Linked DNA regions of Homo sapiens. The protein of the gene in region 1 purifies or fractionates together with the protein of each later gene. This does not show direct contact. Each region holds a gene or a part of one and is shown in the gene's direction. Other genes may lie near its edges. The genes, in order: ALDH1B1 and FH.

Region 1 (7,959 bases):
TTCCCTTCGATAAGGACCCTTGTGATTACATTAGGCCCTGGCTATACAATCTAGAATAATCTCCCACCTCCAGATCATTAACTACAATATCCTCTTTTGCCATGTAAGGTAATGTCTTCATAGGTACCAGGTGTTAGGACATTGACGTCTTTAGGGGCCATTATTCTGCCTACCACAATCAGTGTACATAAGGTGAAGCAATAGGGAGTGGTGAGGCCTGTGGCAAACTGGAAAATGAAAGCCCTGCCTAAAGGGGGCAGCTACTACGTGCATCTCTAGTTGAGCCACTGTTCCATATCCACGTGCAGGCCTGATAGTACTAAGTCTTCCAATGTTTCAAGAACAAATAGAAAAGTACATTTTAATGTCAAATATCTCAATGTTTAAGCATTAGAAAGCATAAAACGGGGAAAAAAAACCCCACAACTCTGCTGGGGCCAAATAGAACATGTATGCTGGCTTGAGACTTGGGCTACCAGTTTGTGGTGTCTAGTCTGGAGCTTCTTCCTCACTAGGACAGTTAAGGCAGCATTACTTTATTTTGTGCTGCTTGTCACCTTGTCAGTGGGAGAAGAGACAGGCAGGTGTGAAGCCCAGGCTCTCTCTCAGGCCCCAGGGTGGTGTTGGTATTTCCCTTCCATTTACCACCCACGTTCCTCCCTTGACCTCTGTCCAAACTCCTCCTCATCTCTCCAAAAGAAGGAGCTCCCAAGGTTGCACGTGGCTCTGCCTTCAATTACTGTTTATTTCATTTGCATGTGGCTTTTCTCCTTGACCTTAACATGAGGAGGGGAGCCACAGCCAGGGCAGCGTAGTAAAAGCTGAGCCTTTTGCTCTGCTAGGGTGAACTCTAACTGTGCTTTACAGGTGCTATTGCCACACGTAAGCACTGCAACAGTCTTCTCTCCCTGCCCCACCGGACCCCAACCTCCTCCTCCTCTCAGTTGGGTCTTCCTTAGTCTCAATGATGCTGTCAGTTAAGGTGTGGTCAAGAAAATGGAAGCCACTCTAGGTGTTTTGAGTAGGAAGAGATTAATATTAACACAAGTGTTGGGAGGCTGGGAAGTGAAGGGCACTAAGCTATTGTCAAGAAATCTGGAAGTGCTAGGATTATAGGGAGGCTACTACCAGTGTTCTCTGCAGTCCACAGTCATGAACGGAGCACTCCTTAGGGGGGCCTTCAAAGCCTTGGGTAGAAATCCACCTCTGCAGATGCCCACGCACCAGCTGCATGTTTTGCTTCCAGGCCAGTGTTATTTGTGTGATTGTGCAAGAGCTTGGCTTCTAGTCTGCACTTGGATACTAATCCCCTAATCCCTTCCAAAGGGACCTTGGGCAAGTCCCTTTTCCTTTTTGGGTCTCAGTTTCTTCAACCATAAAAATGAGGTGAAGGGGAAGGAAGACAGAGAGGGAGGAGAACAGAGTTTGTGGCAAATACTCAGGGGTTAGTTATGTTCAACAACATTCAGACTTGCTCATGTTCACAGAGAGTAAGCTTCACTTAGAGGATCACTTAGGAAAAAAGAAAAAAGTATATATTGGTTTGATTTTTAAATGTATCTTTATTTTTAAATTTCCATTTCCTGCAAATGCCTCAGTGTCTTGACCTAGTCTTGCCTCTTCCGTTCAAATACAGAAAATGATTATGCTCAGTGTAGAAGAAACACTCAGTGCAGCTTTCAGTCCTTTTGTTTGGAATCTAGCTGATCTGTACGTCATTCTCAGAGCTGGATTCTTCTTCAGTAACTTCTTAGACATATAAGGCTCTACAACGCTGAAGGATAGAAATTGCTTCTCTTCTCCCACCAGCCCAGTGTAAACACATCCCTGGACGACACTGACCTGACTGTGGCTTGTGTTATCTCACCCTTTCCCCTTCAATCCACACAGGCTCCAGGTCCAATATCCTTACAAAGGGCCTGGATCTTTTTTTGTTAATTAAAAAGCTGAATCCATCACATTCCTGGAAAATAGTCAACCCTCTGCAAAAATAATTTGTGCATTTTACCTTCAGCTACTGCACATTCATTCTTCTCTCCAAACCATAAATGTCAAGCACTGTGGAAGTTTTTTTTTTTTTTTTTTGAGGAGGGGTAAATACCTTGCAACAGGACCACTTTGGTGAGTTCTGATGCCAGTCACAGCTTAGAAAGTGTCAAAGGTGGGCATGCTGGATAGAATCTAGACATAACACATTTGCAGGCAAAGTCACTTTCTGGAAATAACCATGACGGAGTCAAAGACTCCTCAGAAACCACTTAGGCCAGTGCTTCCCAAATATGGTTATATATCAGAAGCATATGAGAAACTTGGCCAGGCGCAGTGGCTCATGCCTGTAATCCCCGCACTTTGGGAGGCTGAGCAGGGCGGATCACTTGAGGTCAGGAGTTTGAGACCAGCCTGGTCAACATAGTGAAACCCCGTCTCTACTAAAAATACAAAAATTAGCTGGCATGGTGGCACGCTCCTGTAGTCCAAGCTACTCAGGAGTCTGAGGCAGGAGACTCACCTGAATTGGGGAGGCGGAGGCGGCAGTGAGCCGAGATGGCACTGTTGTACTCCAGCCTGGGTGACAGAGTAAGACTCCATCTCAAAACAAAACAAAACAAAACAAAACAAAAAAGGAAGCATATGAGAAACTTAACAAAAACTTCTGGGCTCCAACCTACATCTAATAATTTAGACTCTCTGAAGGCAAGGTCCAGGAGATTGTTAAAAAACAAAAACAAAAACACAAACAAACAAAAAAAACTAAGCTCCCCACTCAATTCTGATGTATAGCTAAGTTTGGGAGCCCCTTGTCTAGTTCTTATCTGAACTAGGATTTTGCCACATGGTTATCTGTCCTTCCCTGTACTCCTCCAGTGATGGGAGGCCCACTGCCTTTCAAGGGAGCCCCTCCCAGCCTTAGCCAGTTCTGCTTTTTCTGGGAGTTATTCCTCTGTATTCTTCACTGGTCTGGCTCTGCCTTCTAGGACCCCACAGATCCTATCTGGTTTTGCCCTTCAGAGATTTGGACGGCACAGCCTTGTCTTTCAAGTTCTAAAGGGTGAACATCCCAGTTCCTTCAGCTGCTCCTCAAGGGGCACAGCCTCCAACCTTGCCGCATGGGGGTCACTTCCTGTCTGCAGCTGGCCTCTCAGACCTGCCACAGTTTCCAATGCACTCTAACACGAGGACTGATACTCATTTTGCCATAAACTCACTCCCTCTATCAATGAGGCCTCTTAAGGATTGGTCAGTTAATCATTAAGTCAATCAGTCCTGGAGTGCTATGCCAAGTGCCCAAGGGGAGCTAGGCTGTCCACGTGCTGTGGGGGAGGCAGGAGGGCCTTGGCAAGGGGCTCATGCCGTTGCTGGAGAAACCCGAGGAAAGCATGGGCATCAAGGTGATAAGATGCCAATCATAGTGCCTTCATGGATGGCTAACTTTTGCAGCAAGGGCTGTGAACATGCTAAGGATGATATGGTAGCAAAAGATTCCATAGAGATGTAGCTTAAGGAAAGAACTAAGTGAATTAGGTCCAAGCAGTCGCATGTGAGCACCCTAGATCAGTGGAGAGGCAGGGATTTAATACAAGGAACTGGGTGCTTACAGACCTGCTGCAAGTGCCGGAGGCAGAAGCAAGCCTTAGCCAGACCAGGACCAACTCTCAGGACAATATGGACGTGGCCCACCAGCCTCGTGCCTGTCTGAGGCTACTTCAGACACCCTCCTGCAGCCTCCATTCAAAGAGCAGGAAGCCAGGTCAAGGAGCGGCTACAGCCACAGCGGCCGGTCCACAGCCAGAAAGCTGGAGAAGGGACAAGGAATGCTGCCGCAGAACATCTCCCATTTCTGCTATCCTGCTAGTGCCACCCTACAGGGGCAGGACAATACCCTCCAATGCGTGCCCGCCTTCCACATCCGGCAGAGTACTACTAATTGGCAGCACCTAGTCCACATCCAGAACTCTAACTGCAAATGAGGCTGGGAAACATGGCGGTTAGCTTTGGGACCTCCCTAGCCAGAAGGAAGGTGCAGCGAGGGTGGAGCGAGTGAGATGCATGTTCAGTGGTCCATCTTGGCAACCTTTATAGCAACAAAATGGAGACAATTAAATGTCCAACAGTTTACCCCTACAACAGAATTCTATGCCACCTTGGAGAGGATGATGTCATCTGTAATTAGTGATAGGAGAAAACTTCAAAATACAGCGCTAAGTTTTTAAATTTTTTTTAAAGCAGCACAACAGAGGTTACTATATGATTTTATTTTTATTAAAATAATTTTGAAAGATGCAGAGGAAACAATACTAGCAGGACGAACACCGTAATAATGGCTACCGTAGGTGAAGAGATTACAGGTGATATTTTTCTTCTTTTTTCATCCTTTCCTGTGTTTTCCAAGCTTTCTACACTGTGCATACATTCTTTTTGTCCTTAGGACAAAAATGTACTTTGAAAAATGCCCAAATATAAAATCTTCTTGAAGGAACTGAAGAAAGGAGCAGTGAAAGTGGAGGACAGAAATTAGTGAATCCTGGACAAAAAAAGTGAGGGAGAGGCGAGGCAGAGAAGGGGTTAAGGGGAGTCTCAAGGATGGCAGTCGATTAAGCAGCGTCTTGCAGCGGGGAGAAATGCAAAGTGTAGTTGGGGTTCGGTCTCCGAAAACTTTGCTGTGTGACCTGGGGAAGCCCCTGCCCCTCTCTGGGTATCTCTGTTTCCGCTCCCAAACCAGTGCCTTAGGAGCCTAGATCTGAGCAACGTGGACACTGGGCTTGCGGAGACCCGAGGGAGGGAGCGCTGAAGCGGTGCGGGCTGCCGGGGGTAGAGGGGCGGGGACCGGGAAAGACCGGGCGGGGCGAGGGAGGAGCGGCCTTGGCCGGCGACAGGACGTAGGCAGCGCCCCAGGCGCAGGCGGAGCCTCATTGGCCGCTGAGCCCCGGGCTGCGCGGAGGCGGGACCTGCGGCCAGCCCTGGGCGGCCATGTGGACAGAGCTGGGAGGGCCGGAACCAGAACCCAAGCGTGATCCTGAACCGGAGCCCGAGCCTGCTGCAGGTAACTAACGCTGGTCTCCCCTCGGCTCCCTCGGGAAGCCGCAGCTCCTGGCTCCGCGTGGGGGCTTTCCTCTCTGGGCCGCGGCGTCCGCATCTGGGGGCTGGCCTTTCCGCCGTTGCACTGTAGGACTCTCTCCACGTCCCCTAATCCCATCCCCCGCCTCTGGGTGACGCTACAGGAGCCCCGAGGACACAGACGCCCCCAGACCTTACCACGTTAGCTCGACCTCAACACTCCTGCCCACTCGGCCCACTTCAACAGAGGGCCCCTGACCATAGCCCAGAGGCTTGGACAAGCCCAAAGGTTGCGCCCTTTCCCCCGCAGAAGGGGTGAGGTGGGCGCCGCTGCAGTTCCCGCGGATAGAGAAGGTCCGGTCCTTCCCGCTGTGGGTGAACTGTAAAAAATTGCCTGTATTCAGGAGGATATGCAAAGCTAGGTTTGTGGAAGTCTGGGGTGAGGCTCCTATACTTTCTTGCTGTGTGTCCTCGGTGAGTCCCTGAACCTCTCTGATGCCCAGCCTTCTTCCAGAATGGGGGTCATCATCAACCCTGACCACCCAGGGACTGCAGAGAGGCTTGGCAAATTTCCCGTGAGAAGACAGCCTGCAAACTGTAAAGCATGATGCTCTGTGAGCTGTGATCTTCCTATCAGCAAGTGGAGGCCCCAGCAAGAACCCCATATAGGCCCCAAGAGTAGGAACGGCCTTGGTGTGGCTGCAAAGGTTTGCCAGCCTTGGCCTATGACCACCTCTCCTGACTGCTTCACCCCTCCAATCCTTACCCCATGGGTTGGTGACTCCCCTTTCCCCTACCTCCTTTTGGTCTCCTCACCCTCAGAGCCAGGCCTGTTGGTGGCAAGGGGGCTGTGTCCCAGCATATGGCAAAGTCCTGAGCTAAATGGAACCCTGGGCACCCCTGGCAGATCTGCTGACTCAGCTTCCCCCTGTGGGATATGATGAGGTTTCTCTTCAAATAATCTGATCAATCTTTTATTCTTTAATTCTTAGTATCCCCCCCTTTTTTTTTTTCATTTTTCTCCTTTTTGCCTTTGTTAGATGCCCAGGCATGCCACAGTACCAAGCGTTATCAGTACCAGCTCACATTCCTTTGCTTATTTGGAAAGAAGACTAACTTTCTAGCTCATTACAGACACCCTTTCCCCTTTCTCTCCACTTTCTTTTACGTGCCCACTCTATCTAAAATAAATCAAATGTTTAGCCAACCGGGATTAGTTTAGATTGTACGACCTGACCCCAGCCAATGGGGAAAGGGTACAGGGGCAGGACTTGCATCAGGAATAAAGGCTCTCGTGCCCCTTTGTTCAGGTGTGCTCTCATGGCAACTGGCCAAGGAGGCATCCCTCTGCGCAGAAGTAAAATTGCTTTGCTAAGAATCCTGTGTTCGAGTGTTCAATTTCCTTAGGATTTTGAGCATTATTCCTAACACCCGCAAGGGGAAGGGAAACTTTCTTGGTCAGCATTGATTATTATTATTTTTTTTAGATACAGTCTTGTTCTGTTACCCAGGCTGGAGTGCAGTGGCACAATCATGGCTCACTGCAGCCTCAACCTCCTGGGCTCAGGTGATTGCCCCCACCTCAGCCTCCCAAGCAGCTAGAACTACAGGCATGCACCACTATGCTCGGCAAATTTATTTTTGTTTTTTTGTAGAGACACGGTTCTTGCTATGTGCTCAGGCTGGTCTCAAACTCCTGGCCTCAAGCAGTCCTTCCACTTCGGCCTACCAAAGCGTTACCAGCGTAAGCCACCACGCCCATCACATTGATTTTTATGGGGCCGGGGACCTACATGGAGCCTTGCTTTCCTGATTGAGTTTTTTGTTCCTCTCCCTGCCCAGGGGTGGAGGGTGAGAGGCTGGGGGTGAAGGGACAGGCAGGTGCAATTCCATTTTACCGCTGGGCGGAGCAAGACTCATGAGACATCAAAGGCAGAGAGATTCAAATTCTGACTGAAGAATAACTGCTTCAACTAATCTGGGAACACTACACTCTGTTTAATTTTCATTTAATATGTATTATATGCCGTTTAAGTTTTATAACAGTAGTTGTTTTAACGAAGTCTACACTCTTCAGAGTTGTAGCTTTTCTTCTCAGCTGCCTCCTGACTTGCTGCACCTCTGGGAAAGCTGAAAAGGGATGCTGAGACCTGTGGTTGGGGGATGCTGGGCTAGGTCAATTTCTGAGGCACGGCCAGTTCTGATGTCCTGAGTGGAGCTTGCCAGGGTTTTTATATGCAAGACATCATTCAACATAACCCCATGAGGCATTTCACATATGGGGGAACTGAGGCACAGAGGTGAAATGAAGCAAGTCCCTCTCAGAGAACAACCATCTCCAAGTCCCTTTGATTTCTACTCAAGTCTTAGGTCAATTCTTAGACAGCCTTTGTGGCAATTTCAGTGTTTTCTCAGTGTATCATTCAGTACTGTGTGTTGAGCCGCTGCTCTGTAGCAGGCATACCTCTAGGCTCGGGGACGTAGCAGTGAATGGAACAGAAAAATAAGTTCCTGTGCTCATGGAGCTTGCATTTTACTGGGGGGAGACAGACAAACATATAAGCCTGTAAAGATAGTATTTGGGATGTGAGATAGAGAAGGAGTAAAGCAGGGTAGCGGGGATAGAGAGTGTTGGGGTGGGAAGGGTTGCAATTTTTTAAAGGGTGGTCAGGGAAGGCCTTGCTGAGACAGTGGCTTTTGAGACCCAGCAGAGGTGAGGGAGTGAGCTGAGGATAGGCGGGACGTGATGGAGTTGGCCCAGAGAGTTCATCAGGGCCCTCACAGCTCTTACAGTCTGTGTTTTTAGAGGTGACAGTCCTTTATGCTGGAATCTTGAAATGTTTGAGCTGGTGGGCCCTTGGGTACCGCCACCTGCCTTCTCCCACCTGTTCACCCTGGTTTCTT
Region 2 (7,946 bases), on another chromosome or scaffold:
TAAACTTTTTCCTACTATTTTTAGCATTCATCAGGGAATCTTATCTACAGCAATTACTTCCATGGTGTTTTAATAGTGATTTTCAGTTTTCTTTATTCATTCTACACTTGTTAGTTGAATTTTTCTGCAAGGAAGATTTGTTCTCTCTGTCCCATTTATTTATTTATTCAGTTATTTGGGTATATCAGTATGGACTGATGGTTATTTATTTTATTCTTCAGGTTATGATCCCATACTTTTGTTTATATTGTTGCTTAAATTCTTTCAGCTCTGGGAACCCAATTCATTTGGCTCTTGTGTCCTTTTAGGCATGCCACCATCCTTTTACTTTTCTGAAGTGTGTTCCGACTTCCTGGTACTTTAAGATGCTCCAAGCTCATTGTCTTGTATTGTTTCTGCCCCAGCCCTAGAAACAGCCATTTTTCAAGGAACTGTTGGAGAATTCTTATTGGAAAATGATATTTAGAAACTGAGATCTGGGTGCTAAGTATAATTTAATATATTTTTAAGTAGTAAGGAAGAAGTGTTTTTAATACACGTTCATTGTATAAGGGATTTTCCCAATCTAATACTTGCCTTTATGAATTTATGTTCTATATATACTGAAGTCTGAAGTCTGCCTCAGAAAGGTAGAGTTATAGATGAAACGTGATTGGCTACATGTTGATAATTATGTAAACTATTTGAATTCAGGTGACAGGTACATAAGTGTTTATTATACCATTCATCCTACTTCTTTCGTAAGTACTTTATATTTTGCATAGTAAACGTCAAAATATATAAATAATGTATCTTTTTAAATGACAGTATACTTTTATATATATCTGTGTGTGTGCATGCGTGTGTGTGTGTGTGTGTGTGTGTGTGTGTGTGTGTGTGTGTGTGTTTAGAGATTGTGCTTCACTCTGTCACCCAGGCTGGAGTGCAGTAGAGTGAGCATAGCTCACTGCAGCCTGGAAATGCTGAGCTCCAGGGATCCTCATGCCTTAGCTTCCTGAGCAAGTGGGACCATAGGCATGCACCGCCATGCCTGGCTAACTTTAAAAATGTTTTCAGAGACAGGGTATTGCTCTGTGTTGCCCAGGCTGGTCTTAAACTCCTGGCCTCAATTGATCCTCCTGCCTCAGCCTCTGAAAGTGCTGAGGTTATAGGCATGAGCCACTGCACCCAGCTTGATATTATGTTTTAAAAGTACAGGGTCAACAGTTGAGGAAAGAGCACTGAGTATATACTACCTGGCTAGGTCTCAGGTTTGCCAGTTGCTAAATATTTTGGCATTTATACAGTCTCTTTGAGGGCTTGGCTTTCCTATTTTTAAAGTGGTAATCTACCTCACAGAATTTTTCTAAACTTAATAAAGAGCTGTTTATGAAAGACTGTATGCACTGTATAATTGTAAGATATTCAATTATAAGATTTTATAAGAATATATAATTCAATAATTGATGTAATTTGATATAATTATAAGATATTCAACTACATTGAAGATACTACTGCTGTCTTCAAGTGCAGTTGTTAACTATACTTCTCTGTATTTTGCTGTCATTTATTAGCAGGCAGATATAATACGTAATACATAATATAATACATAATATATTATATAATACATAATATAATATAATACGTAATACATATATAATACATAATACATTCAGTATACTTAATGTGTATAATACAGTTCTGAGTATGTGTTAGAAACCAGGATGCTGCTTATTTGATTCTATAATAACTCACCTATGACATGCCACACATACATGTAACTGAGCTGGGTTTTGAGTAGTTAGTTGGAGAGTTTTTTAATTGAGAAGTTTAATTCAGAAGTTTGTTTTTGTTGCCTCTGATTTAACATTTTATATTTCTTTTGAAAAATTTCCAACAGAGCTCAAATGATACTTTTCCCACAGCAATGCACATTGCTGCTGCAATAGAAGTTCATGAAGTACTGTTACCAGGACTACAGAAGTTACATGATGCTCTTGATGCAAAATCCAAAGAGTTTGCACAGATCATCAAGATTGGACGTACTCATACTCAGGATGCTGTTCCACTTACTCTTGGGCAGGTATAGGAGTTTGACTAATTTGATTCAATTTAGAGCTTGGTACAAATGGCCAATGTGTCATCCTTGAAATCTGACTAGCTTAAAAGGCCAAATTTGTAACCGGAAACTTCAGTGACAGAGGTTGTTCTGTTCAACCAATCAGTAATTTTCATTGACATCCACTTAGAAGAAAAGCAGAGTATACTGGCTATAAGTCAGATTCAGTCAGACTGCTCGGGTTCAAATCTTAGCTTTGCTGTGTACAAGCTATGGGACCATAGGAAAGTCATTTAGCCTTTCTGTGCCTCAGTTTTCTGAGCTACAAAATGAGGAAAATAATTTCCCTTTCATAGGATAGTTGTGAAGCTCTAGTAAGTTGATTTATGTAGAGTGCTTAGAAGCATGCCTGGCACACAGTAAGTACCCATTCATGTTAGCTACCATCATCACCACCGTCATCGCTGTCATCTCCATCAGTATCATCATGGTTTTTCTTTTGTCTTTCTTACCTAAATTAGTAGGTTATTTAAAATTTAATCTCAAAGTGATTAAATAAGGTAGATCTTTTTAAGATGGATCTGGCCGCATGTGAAGGAGATACTACTCTCTTCTCCAAGATATTAGAAAGTATTTTCATGTTTCTTTTTCAATGCCTTAAGGAATATCTAATAGTATACATTGTGAAGGAAATGTAAGGAAATACAGGGAATGACTTTTGTCTTAGTAAACTCACACTCCAATTGGGGTAGCTTAATTTCCTTATGGAAGGAATGAGGAAAACTTGAAATGAGTAATTGAAAAACAAATGATGGGACTAAATTGAACTCACTGGATTGAGTTGCTTCTTAAGGCTGTGTCTCATTTCTCTTTGCATCATTAGTACTTAGGACCATGCATAATTTCTAAGGAGGAACAGTATGTATGTTTTGAAACTTTTGAATATTTCTCAAGTTTCTAATTTTAACCTTTTTTTGGTGTTGAAAACTACAATACTAAATACCATTTGGGCCATGACTCAGCCTCCTGTGTAAAATCATCATTCTTCCTGTTAAGACAGAAAATTACATTTTTCTGTTTGACTTTATCAGAAGCATTTATACTTGCTTTTATTGGGATTGTCTTTTGAGTTCGTGCATTGTTCCCTGTCAAAGTGTATTTTATAAGTGAATCTATCTAGTGTGTTTGTGTGTGTGTGTATACATACAGTCATGTGTTGCTTAGCAATGGGGGTATGTTCTGAAAAATGCATCCTTAGGCAATTTCATAGTTATGTGAACATCACAGAGTATACTCACACAAACCTAGATGGTATAGCCTTCTATACACCTAGGCTATATGGCATAGCCTTTTCCTCCTAGGCTACAAATCTGTGCAGCATGTTACTGCATTGGATACAATAGGCAATCGTAACACAATGGTAAGTATTTGTGTATCTAAACATATCTAAATGTAGAAAAGGTACAGTAAAAATACGGTTTTATAATCTTAGGGTCCCACTGTTTATGTGATCTTTCGTTGGCTGAAACATCATTATGTGGTGCGTGACTGTATATGAGTGATGTTATATCAGATGCATCAGGTCTACCTATAATGAGTTATATCTTTTGAAATGTTTTCTTTAGAACAGTATGGCATCCTGTCACTTATGGTTTTTTAGTGTTTTCAGGCAGGAAAAAAGGATAGATTTAGTGTAACCATGTATCTTGGTTTGTCCAGTTAACTCCCAGTGTATGCCTTTTGTTTCTGCATGACTATTAATAGAGCCCTTTCTGTGTTCAAAACATAAATTCTGTGGTTGCTTTAATTAAGGCATGTCAAAATTTGGAACCAGTGTTGACATTGGCACATTGATGCTATGATCTGACTCTACCGTTACCTCCTATTCTTTTTGGAAGGTCCTTCAATGCAAACTGTTACCTTCCTGTGCTATTCAGTGAGTCATTAGCTTCCCAAGTCTCTGTAGAATGTCTTCATATTTCCTGGTAGGTTTATACACTGAAATTGTATGGAGAATATTTCTATGTTTGCATTTTTTTGGGGGAGATGAGTTACTATTTTTTCTTACACCAAAGTTGTCTGAGGCATCCCAAAAAATAAGAAATCACTTCAGTTTCTTTAGTAGACTGCAAGTAAACCAATAATTTAGTGTAGTAAAGTTGTTCTTTTTAAAGTGTATTTCCTGTGCTGTTTTTCTTTGCTTCCTATTAAAAGACTAGATTATAATAAATAGGCTGCATGTTATCAGTGGCATTGTCGTACCTTATGGTTCTATAAACCCTCATCCTTCCCTATACTTTGCTCATCATAAGATTTGAAGTAGTATAAATAAAACTTGATTAGCTTGTAATTTAGTATTCTGAAAGGTATTTTTAAAAATTTCTATTTAATGCAGTTAGAGTAACTTGTAAGCTATTAGGAATTACTTATTCTTACCTTAATTTTCTTTTCTTTTCAGGAATTTAGTGGTTATGTTCAACAAGTAAAATATGCAATGACAAGAATAAAAGCTGCCATGCCAAGAATCTATGAGCTCGCAGCTGGAGGCACTGCTGTTGGTACAGGTTTAAATACTAGAATTGGCTTTGCAGAAAAGGTTGCTGCAAAAGTGGCTGCACTTACAGGTTAGTGATCACGTGAATTATTTCTCATTTTCATTTCTCATTATACGTGGTCTGTACATTTTCTGAGTGTTCCTGTCTTGAATTCTTGTGAATTTAAAGTTAGAAATGATATTTTTCCATCAAACATGTGTTTTAAGTATATTTCTGAAGTTATAATGTTAATTATTTGCCTTTTAAAAAATGTTCCATGTAGGAGTTTATACAGCATGCCATTAAAATCTACCAGTGTTAGCTTTGTTTACTAGTTAGTTTTCAATTAATTTCCCTTTAAAGTTTTGAATAGCAGTTTTCAAAATAGGCAGAAAAAACTGAGTGTTGAGTAAGTTATTTGAATAGTAAATATGTTGTAGACAGACTTAATTTCTTTTTTTTCCTATTATGTCATGCTGTGATAATTCTTTGAATTATTGACCTTTTTGAACCATGTCTTTCCTTTAGTAGAGAGAGTATTATACTTTAGATAATGATAACTATTATTAGGGCCAAGTTGTCATCTTCAGAAAACTCTCATTAAGATGTAGATGTTACCAGACGGTTAGGGTAGAGATAATTATACACTGCACATGATAGCTTACCAGCTGATTTGTCTTTAAACCATATTTTAATAGAAAAGAACTCTACTTTTAGGGTTTGGCAAATGTAGATTTATAAAATTTTTAACATGGGGGTTAACTGAGAACATCTAACTCATTTTAGCACACTGTTTTTATAGGGGATCTTGTGGGCTCCTGGCTAGGGGAGAGGATGAAGCACAGTAAAGTGGACAAAGAAACTTTAAAAAATTGTATTAGGGGCCGGACATGGGGGCTCACACCTGTAATCCTAGCACTTTGGGAGGCCAAGATGGGCAGATCACTTGAGGTCAGGAGTTCGAGACCAGCCTGGTCAACATGGCGAAACCCTGTCTCTAGTAAAAATTTAAAAAAATTAGCCGGGCATGGTGGCGGGCGCCTGTAACCCCAGCTACTTGGGAGGCTGAGGCAGGAGAATTGCTGGAACCCTGGAGGAGGAGGTTGCAATGAGCCAAGATCGTACCACTGCCCTCCAGCCTGGCTAAAAAAGCAAGACTCTGTCTCAAAAAAAAAAAAAAGAAAAAAGGTATTAGGAAAGGAGTGTGGTATAAACCAGAATGAATTCCCATATACTTTTTACTCAAGCATAGTCAGGCATCATATACGTGTGTTTGCAGTAGGATTGTGTTTTTTCTTTCAGTACATTTATCATACTTGTTATTTCATCTTTTTAAAATGTAGTGCCTGGCTAAGCACAGTGGAATTACACTCCTGTAATTCCAGCACTTCAGGAGACCAAGGTGGGTGGATCGCTAGAGCCTAGGAGTTTGAGACCAGCCTGGGCAACATGGCGAAACCCCATCTCTACTAAAAATTAAAGAATTAGCTGGGCGTGGTGGTGTGCACCTGTAGTCTTAGCTACTCTGGAGGCTGAGGTGGGAGGATTGCCTGAGCCATGGAGGTTGAGGCTACAGTGAGCTGTGATTGAGCCACACTGCACTCCAGCCTGGGCAGCAGAGTGAGACCCTGTCTGAAAAAACTTAAAAAATGTAATACCAGATTCTTTCTACTCCTTTAGGACTTCTTTTAAAAATGTAGACAAAATTTGAGTCTTAAGTAAACATTTTTTTCTGAAGTAAAATTTTTATTTTTTCGTATATTGGAACTTTCTGTTTCACTTGCTAATGGTAGAAAAATGTTTAGTTTAACTTGTTCACCCATCTAGGATATTTTTCTTTTCTTTAGGCTTGCCTTTTGTCACTGCTCCGAATAAATTTGAAGCTCTGGCTGCTCATGACGCTCTGGTTGAGCTCAGTGGAGCCATGAACACTACTGCCTGCAGTCTGATGAAGATAGCAAATGATATTCGATTTTTGGGTTCTGGTCCTCGGTCAGGTCTGGGAGAATTGATCTTGCCTGAAAATGAACCAGGAAGCAGTATCATGCCAGGTAATCACATAGCTAGTAAATGTTGGAGCTAAAACTTGACTAGGTCCTAGGCATTCTTAGCTATGGACCATGTCTCTCTTTGTTTAAAGTTATCCCGCAGCTGGATGCGCAAGGCGCACTGTTCCAGCATGTCTGTGGTCCTCTGGTCAGGACTGCTGGGCACGTCACCTGACAAGATAGGAAGAAAGAATCTGACTTAGCAGCAAGTATTTCGAATCCCACATTAGAAAATGTAGAGCAGGCTGTTAAAGTGATCAGCGCGGGTTGAATAAAAAGAAGTCATACCAAACTTCACTTATTTCATTTTTTGCATTCCGTTATATGCCTGTTAGATATAGCAAGTGACACAACAGTGTATGTCTGGATTTCAGCAAGTCATTTGATAGATTCGCATGATAGTCATTGATTCCAGTGGAGAAGCGTGGGCAGTGCTGGCAGATGAATGTAGCTGGGTGAACAGTGACATTTCAGAAGTGACTAATGAAGTGACTTCAGTCTAGAAGAATATATTGGTAACAAGCTGAAGGGCTCTGCCCTTCAACACTTTACTGGTGACTGAGGGTGAAGGAAGAGAATACATGCTAATCATATTAACAGTTAACAAAGTTGGGATAGCAATACTATGGATGACAGAACTGAGATCCATAAAGGCCACTGTAGCTTGGGCTAAAACTGACAATGTAACTTTTAATAGTGAGAAAGGCCTGACTCTAGATTTTTATGGAAATTATGGATCTGTAGAATAAGAAGAGATGAAATTTTGTTTTAAAGTACTTCATGTTGAAGAATGACATAAAGGTTTAGTTGATTGCAAATCCAGGGTGATTGCCAAAAGAAAGAGAACTGGGGGAGTCACAGATAAAGGCAATAATCCACCCAATAATCTTTCCAGTGTGTTAACTTGTACTGGTCAGAGGAATCTGGGTTGTTTGATTCAAACTTGGAGCTTGTCCAAGGAGTGTGAGCAGGGTAGTGGGGTTCCAGAGACTCGTGATAAATAGGAAAATTTTAGCTTAGCATCACCTTCCCCTAGGAAGCCTCCCATGTGTTAGTGAAGGGTCGCTTTTATAAGTGTTCTGATAGCAGCATACACTACTCTGTATTTACCCCTTATAATTGCCAGCTCTTTCTCCCTAGCCTCCAAGTTCTGCGAGGGCAGGGCCTGCATCTTTCTTATTCAGTGTTGTATATTGAGTGCCTGGCTCCATAAATATGTATAGAATGAATGAAAATCATGAAGGTGGAGAACTATATTTAATGTGTAGTTGTGGCTACTCGTTAGCCTTTGAATGATTCATTTTGTGGCTACCCATCCCACCTTCC

Evidence for each region.
Region 2: the proteins of ALDH1B1 (region 1) and FH fractionate together in Homo sapiens (co-fractionation; 2 studies listed by BioGRID). This does not show direct contact.

The regions. Positions count from the first base shown.
Region 1 is NC_000009.12:38,387,767-38,395,725, forward strand, and holds the start of ALDH1B1 (aldehyde dehydrogenase X, mitochondrial precursor), read left to right. Parts: upstream 1-4,935; 5' UTR 4,936-5,041; exon of another isoform or gene 5,042-6,667; coding exon of another isoform or gene 6,668-6,799; intron 6,800-7,959. UniProt on the Homo sapiens protein: ALDHs play a major role in the detoxification of alcohol-derived acetaldehyde. They are involved in the metabolism of corticosteroids, biogenic amines, neurotransmitters, and lipid peroxidation.
Region 2 is NC_000001.11:241,502,719-241,510,664, reverse strand, and holds part of FH (fumarate hydratase, mitochondrial), read left to right. Parts: intron 1-1,879; coding exon 1,880-2,062; intron 2,063-4,496; coding exon 4,497-4,662; intron 4,663-6,419; coding exon 6,420-6,623; intron 6,624-7,946. UniProt on the Homo sapiens protein: Catalyzes the reversible stereospecific interconversion of fumarate to L-malate. Experiments in other species have demonstrated that specific isoforms of this protein act in defined pathways and favor one direction over the other.